Linked DNA regions of Homo sapiens: all the other regions are reported to be linked to region 1. The links are microRNA targets in miRTarBase. Many come from high-throughput screens and were not tested one by one. Region 1 holds a microRNA gene; each other region holds the end of a gene's coding sequence.

Region 1 (5,071 bases):
ATCATCCCTGTGCACAAGCAGACGGAGAATCTGCAGCGGCTGCAGGAGAATGTTGAGAAGACGCTGTCCTGCCTGGACCATGTCATCAGCTACTACCATGTGGCCAGTGACACTGAGAAGATCATCAGAGAGGGGTGAGTGAGTGAGGCCCAGAGGGTCAATTCCTAATGCCTCCTGGGCCAACAGGAGGGTTGGTCTGTAATCCCAACAATTTGGGAGGCTGAGGTGGGAGGATCGCTTGAGACTAGGAGTTCAAGACCAGTCTGGACAACACAGTGAGACGCCTTTTAAGCCCTAGGCCTTAAAAGGCAGTGGGGGGATAGAATATATTTGAGCCTGGAGTCCCCTGTATTAATTTTCTTTTTCCCAAATACTGTGTCCTTAGTCCTTCTTCATCCCCCATGCCCCAGCCTGACCTGGCTCTTTTCTTTCCCAGCCCCACAGGTAGGCTGGAAGAGTACCTGGGAAGCATGGCCAAGATTCAGAAGGCAGTGGAGTATTTCCAGGACAACAGCCCAGACAGCCCGGAACTCAACAAAGTGGTAAGGGGTCCGCAGAATAACGTGAGAAGCTTGGGGATATCAGTCTCTGCCCTGGTCTCATGAGGGACATGGAGCCAGCTTGAGGATGTATGCAGTAGAATACACAGAAGGATATAGCACAGTACATCCTATAGGCATTAGGATCTCTGCTTCAAGAATTGCACATTTTTTATTATTAAAAATTCTTTATTATAAAACTTGTTAATGTATTATAAAAATTAAATTATAAATTACATATAAAATATAAACTTAACATTTGATTTGTTGTTGTTGTTGTTGTTGTTGTTGTTTTTTCCTGAGACAGAGTCTTGCTCTGTCACCCAAGCTGGAGTACAGTGCTCAGCTCACTGCAACCTCTGCCTCCCAGGTCCATGTGATTCTCCCACCTCAGCCTCCCAAGTAGCTGGGATTACAGGCACTCGCCACCGCACCTGGCTAATTTTTGTATTTTTAGTAGAGACGGGGTTTCGCCATGTTGGCCAGACTGGTCTCGAACTCCTGACCTCAGATGATCCCCCGCCTTGGCCTGGGATTACAGGCGTGAGCCATTGCACCCAGCCACGTTTGATTTTTATAAATGCATTTGTTGTTCCTTTATTTTGGTTAAAAATACATAATATAAATTTTTTTTTTTTTTGAGATGGAGTTTTGCTCTTGTTTCCCAAGCTGGAGTGCAATGGCACGATCTCGGCTCACTGCAACCTCTGCCTCCGAGGTTCAAGTGATTCCCCTGCCTCAGCCTCCTGAGTAGCTGGGAGGGTGTGCGCCACCACTCTCGGCTAATTTTTTTTTTTTTTTGTAGTTTTAGTAGAAACGGGATTTCACCATGTTAGCCAGTTTGGTCACAAACTTCTGACCTCAGGTGATCCGCCCGCCTCAGCTCCCAAGGTGCTGGGATTACAGGTGTGAGCCACCGTGCCTGGCCAAAATGTGCTATTTTAACTCTAAGTTAACAGTGGCATTAAGTAGATTCACAATGTTATGTAGCCATCACCATTATCTCCACAAATATGTTCATCTTCTCCAAGTGAAACTCCACTCCCATCAAACACTAATTTCCCATTCTCCCTTCCTCTGTCTTCTGGTAACCACCATTCCACTTTCTGTTTCTGTGAATCTACTCTAGGAACTTGAATCTATGTGATTTTTTTTTTTGCATTATTATCTTAAGAGACAGGATCTGGCTTTGTCATCTAGGCCAGACTGCAGTGGTACAACCATAGCTACTGCAGCCTCGAACTCCTGGGCTCAGGCAGTCTTCCCACCTCAGCCTTCCAAGTAGCTGGGCCCACAGGCATGTGCAACCATACCCAGCTAAGTTTTAAATTTTTTGTAGAGATGAGGTCTCCTGTGTTGTTCAGGCTGGTCTCAAACTACTGTCCTCAGGTGATCCTCCCACCTTGGCCTCTCAAAGTGTTGGGAGGGATTACGGGCATTACCCACTGTACCTGCCTTCATCATATTTTTGTGTTTAAGTTTTGGGGTCATTAGATCATCAGAGCAAGATGGTGACTTGGCCTCTGGAAATCACAAATCTATTTTCTGTCTTTATGGATTTGCCTATTCTGAATTTCTAATATAAATGGTATCTTATAATACATGGCCTTTTGTGACTGGCCTCTTTCACTTAGCGTGATGCTTTCAAGATCAATCCATGCTATAGCATGTATCAGTACTTCATTTCATTTTCATGCCATATGATATTCCTTTTTGTGGATAGACCACAGTTTCTTTTTTTGGTTTTTTGTTTTGTTTTGTTTTTTGAGACGGAGTTATGCTCTTGTTGCCCGGGCTGGAGTACAATGGCGCAATCTTGGCTCACTGCAACCTCCACCTCCTGGGTTCAAGCGATTCTCCTGTCCCAGCCTCCCGAGTAGCTGGGATTATAGGTGCCTGCCACCACACCGAGCTAATTTTTTGTATTTTTAGTAGAAACGGGGTTTCACCATGTTGGCCAGGCTGGTCTTGAACTCCTGACCTCAGGTGATCTGCTTGCCTCGGCCTCCCAAAGTGCTGGGATTACAGGCGTAAGCCACCGTGCCCAGCCAGACCACATTTTCTTTAGCCATTTATCCTTTGATGGACACTTGGGTTGTTTCCAATTTTTGTCTCTTGTGAATAATGCTGCTATAAACCCTCTTATATATGTCATCGTGTGGACAGATTCATTCTCTTTTATGTTTGGGATACCTGTCTTTTATCAGATACATAGTTTACAAATATTTTCTCTCATTCTGTGGGTTATCCTCACTTTGTTGGTGGTATCATTTGCAGCACAAAAGTTTTCAACTTGATATTGTTCAATTTATTTATTTATTTTCTTTTGCAAACCCCCCACTAACAAGAAGACAAATTAACGGTTCAGTGAGAAAATAATCGGCCAGTATTTTTTTTTTTTTTTTTTTGAGACGGAGTCTCACTCTGTTACCCAGGCTGGAGTGCAGTGACGCAATCTTGGCTCACTGCAAGCTCCGCCTCCTGGGTTCACACCTTTCTCCTGCCTCAGCCTCCCGAGTAGCTGGGACTACAGGTGCCCACCACCACGCCCGGCTAATTTTTTTTTTTGTATTTTTAGTAGAGATGGAGTTTCACCTTGTTAGCCAGGATGGTCTCGATCTCCTGACCTTGTGATCTGCCCGCCTCGGCCTCCCAAAGTGCTGGGATTACAGGCGTGAGCCACCGTGCACGGCCAATCAGCCAGTATTTATTAAGCACCTACTTCTTGTAAAACCCTGGGTTTTACCTGTAAACACAAATTTTGAGAGAACATGAAGTAAAGGAGTCACCAAGGCCGCTTCCCAGCGTTTCTTCTTTGGGTTAAAGGATATCAGGGCAGGCCAGGTGCAGTGGCTCATGCCTGTAATCCCAGCACTTTGGGAGGCTGAGGCGGGTGGATCACCTGAGGTCAGGAGATCAAGACCATCCTGCCAACATGGTGAAACCCCGTCTCTACTAAAAATACAAAAATTATCTGGGCATGGTGGCACGTGCCTGTAATCCCAGCTGCTCAGGAGGCTGAGGCAGGAGAATTGCTTGAACCAGGAAGTCGGAGGTTGCAGTGAGCCAAGATTGTGTCACTGCACTCCAGCCTGGTGACAGAGCGAGACTCCCTCTCAAAAAAAAAAAAGATATCAGGGCAGAAAAGGGCAGAGGCCCTGAGTTAAGAAGACAGAGCTGGCACAGGCAGGGGAAGGCCAGGACTGGCAGAACACTGAAGCAGCAGGCACCTGCTTCCTTCTGTTGTCTGTGCAGAAACTGCTCTTTGAGCGCGGGAAGGAGGCCCTGGAGTCCGAATTTCGCAGCCTGATGACGCGGCACAGTAAGGTCGTCTCGCCCGTGCTCATCTTGGATCTGATCAGTGGTGACGATGATCTGGAGGCCCAGGAGGACGTGACCCTGGAGCACCTGCCCGAGAGCGTGCTCCAGGATGTCATTCGCATCTCCCGCTGGCTGGTGGAATATGGCCGCAACCAAGGTAAGGGATTCTGGCTTGGCCACATGACACACCAGAGGCAGAGGGAGTTTTCTCCCCTTTGTTCTTTTTTTTTTTTTTTTTTTTTTTTTTTTGAGATGGAGTCTTGCTCTGTTGCCCATGCTGGAGTGCAATGGTGCAACTCGGCTTGCTGCAGCCTCTGCATACCCGGGTTCCAGCGATTCTCCTGCCTCAGCCTCCCGAGTAGCTGGGATTACTGGCGCATGCCACCATGCCTGGCTAAGTTTTGTATTGTTAGTAGAGATGGGGTTTCACCATGTTGGCCAGGCTGGTCTTGAACTTCTGACCTCAGGTGATCTGCCCACCTCAGCCTCCCAAAGTGCTGGGATTACAGATGTGAGCCACCATGCCTGGCCCCCTTTATTCTTTAATCCACCTGTCATGGTTTTTTTGATAAAAGGATGTTTAACTGGAACCAATATAAGAATATAAGCAACCATTCTATGACTTGTATATCAAGTGGTGAATCTAGGCAAATTCAAACTTTTCTTGTCTTGATTTTTATGTTCCTTTGCCTTTTTTGATTAGTTGTAAAATTTTCAAAGCCATGGGTGAAAAGTAAAAGTCCATCTCCCATTCCCTGATGCCTCCATTACATAAGCCAAAGATGAGCACTATTAAGGTTTATTTATGCCAGGTGCTGTGGCTATGCCTGTAATCCTAACAGTTTGGGAGGCTGAGGTGAGTGGATCGCTTCAGCTCAGGAGTTCGAGACCTGGCCAACATGGCAAAACCCTGTCTCTACAAAAAATAAAAAAATTAGCTGGGTGTGGTGACGCATGCCTGCAGAGCCAGCTACTTGGGAGGCTGAGGTGGCGGGGAATGACTTGAGCCTGGGAGGTGGAGGTTGCAATGAGCTAAGATCACGCCACTGTACTCCAGCCTGGTTGACAAAGTGAGACTCTTGTCTCAAAAGAAAGAAGGCCAGGTGCAGTGGCTCATGCCTGTAATCCCAGCACTTTGGGGGGCCAAGGTGGGCGGATCACCTGAGGTCAGAAGTTCAAGACCAGCCTGACCAACATAGAGAAACCCCATC
Region 2 (5,071 bases), not on the chromosome of region 1:
CAAATTGAGAAAAAAGACACGTCTATAGTGACAAAAGTACATAAATATCTAAAACCAGATGATTGGAGCAAGATGGCAGATAGATCCCATGCCCCACTCAACATTCCATTGAACTGGGATGAAAATGTTTTCAAGGGTCAATTCTTAACAGTAGAGGAAAATAGGAAAGCGTGTCAGTGGTCCACCAGGAATACTGAGGCATACCTGGGAGACAGAGTAGATGGGATCAGACTGATAGAGAAACCCAAGGAGACAAGACCACAGCTCAAATCACTATAGGCGAGAGATGCTGTCTGAGACAGAGACTTACTCTGTCGCCCAGGCTGGAGTGCAGTGGCATGATCTCGGCTCACTGCACCCTCCGTCTCCCAGGTTCAAGGGATTCTCCCGCCTCACTCCCTGCAGTAACTGGAATTCACAGGCCAGCCACCACTACCGGCTAATTTTTGTATTTTTAGTAGAGACGGGGGTTTCACCCTGTTGGCCAGGCTGGTCTCAAACTCTTGATCTCAAGTGATCTGCCTGCCTCGGCCTCCCGAAGTGCTGATATTACAGTGTGGGTCACCGCGACCGCCCAGGAGACGCTCTTTGTAACAAAGCCTCTGAAAATCTCCAAACCCTGAATCAAAGAAAACACGGAGCTGGAAAGGGCCTTAGGAAAATCATCATGTAAGTTAATTTAAAAGTTCATCAGAAACGTCTGAATCAGCCAGATTCCCCTCCAACACCACAGACAGATTGGCTGGCAGTAGCCACTTTTGCCTCTAAGATGAAACTCTGATAATTATTCATTAAAGAAACTGAAGGCCTGGCGAGGTGGCTCACACTTGTCATCCCAGCACTTTGGGAGGCTGAGGCAGGAAGATTGCCTGAGGCCAGGGGATCCAGAACACCCTGGGCAACATAGTGGATGCCGTCTCTACAAAAAAATACAAAAACCAGCTGAGTGTGGTGGTGTGTGCCTGTAGTCCCAGCTAGATCGGAAGCTGAAGTGGGTGAATCCCTTGAGCCTGGGAGATCGAGGCTGCAGTGAGCAGCCTCGATCACTGCATCACTGCACTCCAGCCTGGGCGACAGACTGCGATACTGTCTCAAAAAAAAAAAACACGAAAAAGAAATGTATCAGGACTTGGTGTAACTTCAGCCCTTCACAGTAATAATGAAGTAGAGAAACACATTTGTGGAGAGGGGACCATGTTCACTCTTTATCCATGATAGACAGATAGTCGGGAGCTTTATATACCCAAGGAACCTAAGGAAAAATGTTCCCTGTCATGACTCACAATCTTCCAGCCACCCTTCCTTGCACCTGTCTTGTGGGCTGGGGGACCCAACTTATGGATCCCATCATCCCAGGGAGAAAGAAAAGTCAAATCCTTCAGTATCTCTTTTAGGGTATTCTCTCCTCTTTGCATGGAGGATAAGGCACTCAATATCTAGTATCGGAATGTTACATTTGTGTAATACAGAACTATATTGGGATAAAATAGAATTTGTTTCTTCTGAGACACAGGTAGAGGCACGTCCACACTGACCTGGGTGGAAGCCATCTCTTCCTGAAGTGCCAGGCAGGGCATGCTCACAGATCTGGGGAACCTCTGTTGCTCCTGGAGCCCCACAACCTCCTTCCTGGCACCCTCTCCCTCTGGTGGCTGTGACAGCCCACACTTGGCCTTGGGTATCCCCTGCTTCTTTGCCTGCCCCTCTTCTGCCCACCCTGCATATCTCTGTCTCCCACTGTCCCTGCTGTGACCATGACCGCCTCTCCCTCCCCGCACTCTCTCTCTCCTAGGGCTCCTTGTCTTGGGAAAATGAACCCACAGCCTCTACCTTGCAACTGGGGACAGAACCCGGAGTTTGTTCAATTCTCCCTCCCTCCACCACACACACCTGTCCTCCTTAATGTTTCTGAAGTCAGTGAGCTCCAAACTCAGCTCCTCCTGCACCTGCCAGCTGTAGGACCTGTGACAAGACACCTACCATCTGTCTGGGACTCTATCTCTCATCTATCATATAGGCATAATGATCATAGTGTTCTCCTTCCAAGGCTGGGGAGAACCAGGAGGCCAAGGTGATGGGGTATGAATGGTCAAAACAGCTCCAATCCTGCCTCCACCTGGGGCTGCTGTTTCAAGTCCGTTGTGTTTCAAGCATTAATGTCTCCATTCACACACAATGGTTTGTTCTAAAACAGACTCCCCTCTGCCCTTCCCTTCCCCACAACTGTTTCACCTCTGCACCGTGCAGTGGTACCTGTGAGAAAGAACTGTCCCATTCCCAAATCATCGTCTCCACCCCAGCCCCCAGGCCCTTGGGTGGTGAGACCCTTGATGGGCAGTCTCATGCTTCTGTCCAGGGGACTTTCCCACCGTTGCTCCCCCGCATGGAGACTAAGTGAACTCTTCTATTCCCTGGCCATCACAGGGTCTACAGTGCACGCATCTTCCCCATCCCTCTGCATTCCCCAGATGATGATTTCATCTGTGTCTCCTACCACATACTCCCAAATGGACCGTCCCAGCCCTAGAACCCGAAAATCGTTCAGAGAGCAAAGGCCAAGATTCCCAACCACCTGCTGCAGAATACTGCTCCAGGACTGAAGTGTATAGTCTCTATCAAAATAAAAACTGGAGGCCAGTTGCGGTGGCTCATGCCTGTAATCCCAACATTTTAGGAGGCCAAGATGGGAGGATCGCTTTGGCCCAGGAGTTCGAGACCAGCCTGGGTAATATAGGGAGACTTTCTTGACAAAACCTGAAAAAATTAGTGGGTCATGATGGTGTGTGCCTGTAGTCACAGCTTCGCTGGAGGCTGAGGTGGGAGAATCGCTTGAGCCCAGGAGATCAAGGCTGCATTGAGCTATGATCATGCCACTGCACTCCAGCTTGGACAGAGTAAGACCCTGTCTCTAGAAAAAAGCAAAAAAAACCCAACAACTGGAAACATCCTCCTCTAGAATGGTGGTCAGGAACATCTGTCTGCCCTGTTCCCTGATGTCTCTTCAGCACCTATAACAGCGCTCAGCACGAGGACGCACTCATTAGGGTTTTGTTGAATAAATGACTCCTTTGACACAGCAATTCCACTTCTAAGAATCTTTCCTAAAGAAATATTCACACAAGTGCACAGAGCTGTGTGCACAATAATGAGAGGAGCAAACAACTGGGGAACGTTTGCAAAGGTTTATTAACTGGCAGTGACTGATAGAGGGGAATCGGATGAGGGGAGTACATGCTGAACAGGAAACAGAGTGAGGGGGGCTTGACCAGGACACATGGGGAAAAGCAGTTGGGAGATGCCTATACTGGTACTTGGTGTGTGTGTGTGTGTGTGTGTGTGTGTGTGTGTGTGTGCGCGCGCGCGCGCATGTGTGTCTGTGTGGCATGTGTGTGTGTTTGTGTAAATGCAGAGGAAAAAATCTGAAATTAAACACTCAGAACTGCCCTCAGTGGTCACATCTGGGAAGAGAGGAGGGTAGTGTTGTTCTATGCAGAGAATACCTGACGATACTTGTTTTCTGAGGTAGGTGCATGGATACACAAACTGAAATATGCATTAAGTATGTCTTGCTCATCAGTGAAAACGCTAATATCTAACAGAATGGCACACTGTAACAAAATACAACAGAAACACTAACATCGAACTCTTGGCACACTAAGAAAAATGACGCTCAACTTTTCACTGTTGTGAACACTTGCTTTCACTTGCTATACACCTGATGACGAGGGATCCGCAGCCATGCCCATGTTCGTGAAAGGTCACCACGTTCTGCTTCTCATCATGGGCATGTGTCATATCCCCGAGGCTGAGGCAAGAAGCGAGAAGGAAAGTAAGTGGCAGTGAGTTCCCACCACATGACAACTCAATCTCAACTCCTCCTGACCTGCAGACCCTGCCCACTCCGATTCTGCCCTACCTCAGGACCTGTACACGCCTTCCATGGTTCCTTGAAGTGAACCATCTGCTCATACCACAGTGACTTCCTCGCCTGGGTTATCAATTCCTAGGCTAGAGGAAGGTGTGGCCCGCATATCAGTGCTGACCTGGGGTTTGGGAACCCACAGCATCCTGGGTAGGGAGGATCCCTGGATATAGAGGGCAGGGAGTAGAAAGAGCATGGTTAGGCAGGCGCAGAGGCTCACGCCTGTAGTCACAACACTTTGGGAGGCGGAGGCAGATGGATCACGAGGTCAGGAGATTGAGACCATTCTGGCTGACATGGCGAAACCCTGTCTCTACTAAAAATACAAGAAAAAAAATTACCCGGTCGTGGTGGCGGGTGCTTGTAGCCCCAGCTACTGGGGAGGCTGAGGCAGGAGAATGGCGTGAACACGGGAGGCGGAGCTTGCAGTGAGCCGAGATCATGCCACTGCACTCCAGCCTGGGGGAACAAAAGGAGACTCCCCCACCCACAAAAAAAAACATGGGAAATTTCATCATTCAGCCTCAATGCTGTACCCTAGAAAATTATGAGAAGGGAATGATTTGGGGAACAACTGATAAGATGGGATACCAGTACCATAACAGAATAGCACATCTGCAAGGATGTGGGAGATGAGCCAAAGGTTCACTTACGGAGTTACTCGTCATCTTCCTGAGGGTCGCTGATCTCTTCATAAATCACCAGTTGCTTTCTCTCACGCACTCTGTGGGTCCAGGCATGTTTCCCCCTTTTGGGTCCTATGATGGAGAAGAGTTGGAAGATGAGGGTTGGGTAGATTGGAGAGGGTTGGGTTGATTGGAGAGTGTTAGGCTCTGTTTTCTCCAAAAAAGGAGATGCCTCCCCACCACCAAGTGCCCATGGGTCTTCTTTATCCAGTTTTTCACATTCTCTGGCTTAGAGAGGCTGAGACCTTAGACCCACACCAATACAGGCCAAATGCAAATTAAAGTTTTAGCTTCTGGCTCCTTCCGTTGTCAGGTTTAGATTCCCAACCTCTTCACTTACGGGAACATTCACCCTTACCTCCTTTCATTCAGCACGTATTTATTAAGGCCACACAGGCGTACCTTGTTTTATTGCACCTCATTTTCATACTGCTTCACAGATGTTGCAATTTTTTTTTTGGAA
Region 3 (5,071 bases), not on the chromosome of region 1:
GCAACCTGGACAGAGCCCTGGGCAGGCAGTAGGGGGAGGCGCCACCCATGGCTGCAGTGGAGGGGCCAGGGCTGAGCCGGCGGGTCCTCCTGAGCGCGGCAGAGGGTGAGCCTCACAGCCCCTCTCTGGAGGCCTTTCTAGGGGATGTTTTTTTATAAGCCAGATGTTTTTAAAAGCATATGTGTGTTTCCCCTCATGGTGACGTGAGGCAGGAGCAGTGCGTTTTACCTCAGCCAGTCAGTATGTTTTGCATACTGTAATTTATATTGCCCTTGGAACACATGGTGCCATATTTAGCTACTAAAAAGCTCTTCACAAAATTGTCTGCTGTGTTTGTCCCTGAGGGGAGGAGGTAGTGGGACCCTGAGGCAGAGGCCCTGCTAGAGCTGGCAGGTTCCCCTGGGGCAGACCAGAGCACCTCAGGAAGGGGCTGCCACGGCAGGGAAGGGACCAGGCAGCCCTGGGAGCCCGCATTCCACAGGGGCCCACTGCGGAGTTCTCGGACACTCAGGGCACAGGCCTGTGGGTTCCCTGGAATTTTCTAGCATGATCCAGTTTCTGTGTCCAGTTCTCCATTCTGAGAGTCAATCAGTTCCTGATAGGTTGTCATTGATTTTTTTCTTCGTTGGTTTTAACCTTCTAAACATCTCCAGGCCACTTTCTTAGCCTTTTTCTAGGTACTAAAAAGAGGTCCTACCCACACCTGCCTCACACTTCTCCTTTCCAAGGCTGCCTGAGTTTGGAGGGGCTTGGGTGTGTGTGAACAAGGGCCCTGCATTGTCTAGGCCTGCAGTTCCCAGGCTTGGGTTCACTTTCACCATGCATTGGCAAAACTAGAAAAGTAAGCTTGTGACAAATTGTTCTCGGCCGGGCACAGTGGCGCACGCCTATAATCCCTGTACTTTGGGAGGCTGAGGTGGGTGGATCACTTGAGGCCAGGAGTTCGAGACCAGCCTGGCCAACATGGTGAAACCCCATCTCTACTCAAAATACAAAAATTAGCCAGGCGTGGTGATGCGCACCTGCAGTCCCAGCTACTCGGGAGGCTGAGGCAGGAAAATGGCTTGAACCTGGGAGGCAGAGGTTGCAGTGAGCCGAGACTGCACCACTGCACTCCAGCCTGGGTGACAGAGCAAGACTCTGTCTCAAAAAAAAAAAAAAAAAAAAAAAAAAAAAAATTGCTCTATGCAAGTTTTTTAGCCCCATGTAAAAAGGAAAAATAAAAGTTGCTCTAAAGCTACATATAATCAAAAGGACTGTCCTCTGCATAGTAAGTTCTGCAAAGCTTCTTCTTTTTGGTGTTAAAATGTCCTGGAGAAGAGTTGTATAATCTTTATAAAGTCCTGGCCAGGTGTGGTGGCTCATGCCTATAGTCCCAGCACTTTGGGAGGCCAAGGTGGGAGGATCACTTGAGCCCGGGAGTTTGAGGCTGTAGTGAGCTATGACTGCACCACTGTACTCCAGCCTGAGTAACAGAGTGAGACCCCATCTCTCAAAACCCCATCTTACAAAGTCCCTTTCCTAAATACTGGGGGGACTCCTATGGCTCCTGAAACCCGACCATTGCGGTAGACTGAGTGGCTTTGGAAGGGCTCTAGCCCTCCATCCACACTGGTGACCCCCCGCTTGCTTTTCCTGAGTAATGCCCTGAAACTCTCAGGGCTATAAGAAGAAACGTGGACTGCTGGCTCTAGCAGGCCCAGCCCCTGGGAGGAAGCTCAAGGCTTCCTGCCTCTTCTTGCCTGTCACCAGCACGGGGCTGGCAGCTCTGCAGAACGCAGCCTCTGAAGCCCAGCCTGGCATCGGGAGCTGGCTTCTTTCCTGAAGCCATGTGGGTGGGTAGGGAGGGGAAGCAGCTTTTCTCTGCAAGTGGTGGGAATACAGGGGCCGTGGCCCACACCACTCTCTTGGGCCCGGGGCAGCTGGCTATAGGCGCCTGGCCCTGCAGGGGGCCATTCCAGTGCAGAGGATGGTCTCAGCCTCCCCCGGGCCCTGGGAGAGTGCAGCCCTGCTGTGTGGGGCTGGGAAGTTTTGCTGGGAGTTCCTGCTGGGAGTGAGGGCCAGGTCCCCAAGAGCTGGGGAAAGAAGCATTTGCAGTCACCTCACTAAAGAATATTCATTTATTTATAATTATTGCTAAGTAAACTTCTCTTTTAAACAGGAACATAAAAACACAGTAGGGCTTTGCACAAGTGGAATCTCTAAACAGTTGGTTTGTATACATGTCAAAATAAGTTAGAATGGAATTTGTCCAGGAGTTTCCAAGTCACCCGAGAGGCTGTGCACCTCTTTTGAGAAGGTTAGGGAGGGGTACAGACAGGAGCCTTGCCAAGACCACCCCCCAGCTCAAACTGTGAGTTGTGCTGTTTCCTCCTCCTAGCTTTGCCCAGGTCCAAGGCACAGGGCAGGGGGCGTTCAAGTATCGAACCTCACAGAGGGCCAGTGCTGACGGCGGGGCTGGGGGAGGGAAAGGAGAGCCCCACCCTGGGGGCCAGACCTTCTCCCTTCAGTTTCCAAGACCAAGGCCACTGCACTGGCAGGAGGGAGGAGGAGGAGGAGAGGTACAGGGTTCTTTTTGGTACCAGGGGAGAAAGACGTGGGAAGAGGTAGTTGCAGGGGATGATGCCTTCTGCTCAGCAGGAGAAAATGTCTTATACAGTGACGGGGTCACTGCCACCTGAGGGTCATCATGGCGGGCACCTGGGAGGTCGTGGGGCTTCGGGGTCTGGAAGCCATACTTGGGCCACCTTGTCCACCCCTCAGTCCTGATCACAGTCACCCTGAGGCCTGGCTTGGTCCTTCACTTAAGGATCCAGCCTTGGGGGTGGCTGCGCTGCAGATTGGTTCCTCCCACCGCAGGCTGTTCCCTTCTCCGGGTTTCTAGGCTGAAGCTAGTGGCTTCATCTGTGCCTTTGGGGAAGACCCCTGCTTGCCCCTCCCCACTGAGGCCTCAGGAGGCAAGTGGGTGGGGGGGTCCGGGTGCCCTAGAGTTCCTGAATGTGCTATTTCACTGCCCTGGGCCTGTCATCTCTGGTTCCAGGGGCAGGAGCTGGCGTGGGAACAGAGGGGAAGAGAGCAGGCGAGCGAGGGAGCTAGCTGTTGGCTGAGCAGAGTCAGCAGCCCTGACAGCCGAGGATGGGACATGGGACAGAGCAAGTCAGCGACTGCAGGAGCCAGGCAGGGGTGGAGGGCTTCCCAGCTCTGCCTTCTCCTGCCTCCCACCCCAGCCTGCTGAGGCTGCTGCCAGCGGCTGCACCTCCAGGGCCAGGGTGACAGTCCCCATGGAGCCCCAGTCCTGCCCGGCCAGGCTGCTCGGGGTGGGTGGGTAGGAAGCACGCACAGCACATTAGGAAGCTTACGCTTGGAAAAAGAAAATGCATCTCCATCAGAAAAGGTCATAGGTGACACACAGTTGGAAAGAAAAAAATAATAAGTTACCTTCAGAAGACCCCCTTTGCTCAAAAAAACCCTTGATTTCCCTCTGTGGGCTTTACTTTCCTTTTTAAAATACGTTGCTCTTTCCGGGAAGCTGCTGACTCGTGGCTATCCCCGTCGCAAGGTGGACACTGAGGAATGAGAAATGACTGCGGTCCCCCTCCCCGACAGGTGGTCCTGGGCCTCCCCCAAGGACAGCCCTTCTTGGTCCCCTGTGATGCCCTCACTCCGCCCTGCCCTGCCCCATGCTTCTGGTTTTGTTAGTGTGTGCCTGACGCGGGGCCTGTCCTGGCTTTGTTCCTAGTGGGGCCCCCTGGTGAGGCACTCCAGCTAGGGTCGAAGTGGACGACATGTGTTGCAATCCACTGTAGGGACACTCACTTCCAGAAAGGGATGTAGGACAGGGGTCTTCTGGGGGCTGGGTGCCCCCCAGCTGTCCTGCAGGCCAGGGCCAGGGCCACGTGCACACCTGGCTTGAGGAGCGCATGGGAGACCCCGGGAGGTAGAAGGCAGAGTGCCCTGCCTGGCGGTCCGTCGACAGGGCGGGGAAGGGGGCCTGGACAAGGTAGAGGTGGGCAGTACTGGCCAGAGGGGAGCTCAGACATCCTTAGAGGCAGGAGTTGGCCGTGAAAAAGACATGGCTCAAGTGGTCTCTTCTTCCAGTGTCAGGACCCCTGAAGAGCTCTGCTGGGCCTGGAGAGACCCCGAGGGCCGGTGCCCTTGTGACCTGTCCCCAGTGGCCCCACTTCTCCCACTCCCCACGGAAGCAGGCCAGGGAGACCCAGATCTGGGCCTCGCGTGTTCTCCTTCCCTTGCTGGGATGCCTGGGCCTGTGCTGGCTCACAGCCGGGGCCAGTAGTACAGTCTCCATTTGGTCTAAAGGTCCCTAGTGGTGCAAATGACTCGGGGAGGGAGGGCTCAGAACAGTGGGGCAGTAGCTTGTTTCTCGGCTGCAGGAGGTGCAGCCTGCAGCCCATGGGTCTCACCCCCATGCCCTCGCCCCCGGCCCCCGTTAGGGGTGGCCCAGCTTGCGCTATAGCACATTGTAGTAGGCCATCTCTTTCATGGCCTGTTCAGTGAGGACACTGGCCTCGGCGCTGCTGTCCACGCTCGCATAGCTGTAGGCGTTCTCCTCGAAGTCCTCCATCTCCTGCTGGCCGTCGAGCTCTGAAGGGTCAGTGCCTGTCAGCTCCATCATGGGGTCTGTAAGAGAGGGGCACAGTCAGACCTGGCTGCCATCTCTCGGGAGGAGCCAGTCACCCCCACGCAGGAAGCTGATGGCCTTTCTAAAGAGAGGGCTTCCCAGTCACGGCCTCCAGGAGTCTCAGCTGCCTCTCAGCCTTCCCACCCTCGGACGCCTCAGGGTCCTGTGGCTTCTAGCTGGGTGACCAGACCTAGGCCCCAAAGCTGAGTGTGGGGGAGTGGGTGCTATCAGTGAGGGCCTTTGTGGTGGAGAACTGCAGGCCTGGCCTTGAAGCCTTCTTTGGGTCATTCTTCCATTGACCCGTCAAAGTCACTAAGCCCTACTTATCCCTTCTCTGCAATGTTTCTCTGGCCACGGGAAGCTGCCTGCGTGACATCACCTTTGCAGCACTCATTAGCACCTGCTGCATGCCAGCCACTTCGCAGGCCTCGC

What was found. The annotated mature microRNA hsa-miR-6868-5p reads ACUGGCAGAACACUGAAGCAGC and lies in region 1 at 3,742-3,763, shown strand. An mRNA with a match to its seed (bases 2 to 7 or 8) in the 3' UTR can be bound and repressed. Matches are read on the target gene's strand: a 7mer-m8 pairs with bases 2 to 8, a 7mer-A1 pairs with bases 2 to 7 and ends in A, and an 8mer does both.
Region 2: the mRNA of SSX5 is a reported target of hsa-miR-6868-5p. Seed matches in the 3' UTR shown: 7mer-m8 at 3,191-3,197.
Region 3: miRTarBase lists ZNF710 as a target of hsa-miR-6868-5p. Seed matches in the 3' UTR shown: 7mer-m8 at 2,534-2,540.

Annotation. Positions count from the first base shown.
Region 1 is chr17:76,096,742-76,101,812 of GRCh38, reverse strand. It overlaps MIR6868 (microRNA 6868), which reads left to right and starts at 3,737; the gene lies at 3,737-3,794. It overlaps EXOC7 (exocyst complex component 7), which reads left to right. Exons shown (of 19, transcript NM_001013839.4): 3 at 1-134; 4 at 437-542; 5 at 3,795-4,017.
Region 2 is chrX:48,183,052-48,188,122 of GRCh38, forward strand. SSX5 (SSX family member 5) reads right to left here. Exons shown (of 8, transcript NM_175723.2): 7 at 4,576-4,680; 8 at 3,169-3,805. The coding sequence ends at 4,580. Among named protein-coding and RNA genes, the nearest start is that of SSX5, 11 kb to the right of the region's middle.
Region 3 is chr15:90,079,227-90,084,297 of GRCh38, reverse strand. ZNF710 (zinc finger protein 710) reads right to left here. Exons shown (of 5, transcript NM_198526.4): 5 at 2,107-4,638. The coding sequence ends at 4,469. It overlaps IDH2 (isocitrate dehydrogenase (NADP(+)) 2), which reads left to right. Exons shown (of 11, transcript NM_002168.4): 11 at 1-1,253. The coding sequence ends at 32. It overlaps ZNF710-AS1 (ZNF710 antisense RNA 1), which reads left to right and starts at 2,091. Exons shown (of 2, transcript NR_146321.1): 1 at 2,091-2,859. RefSeq lists an enhancer at 1-320.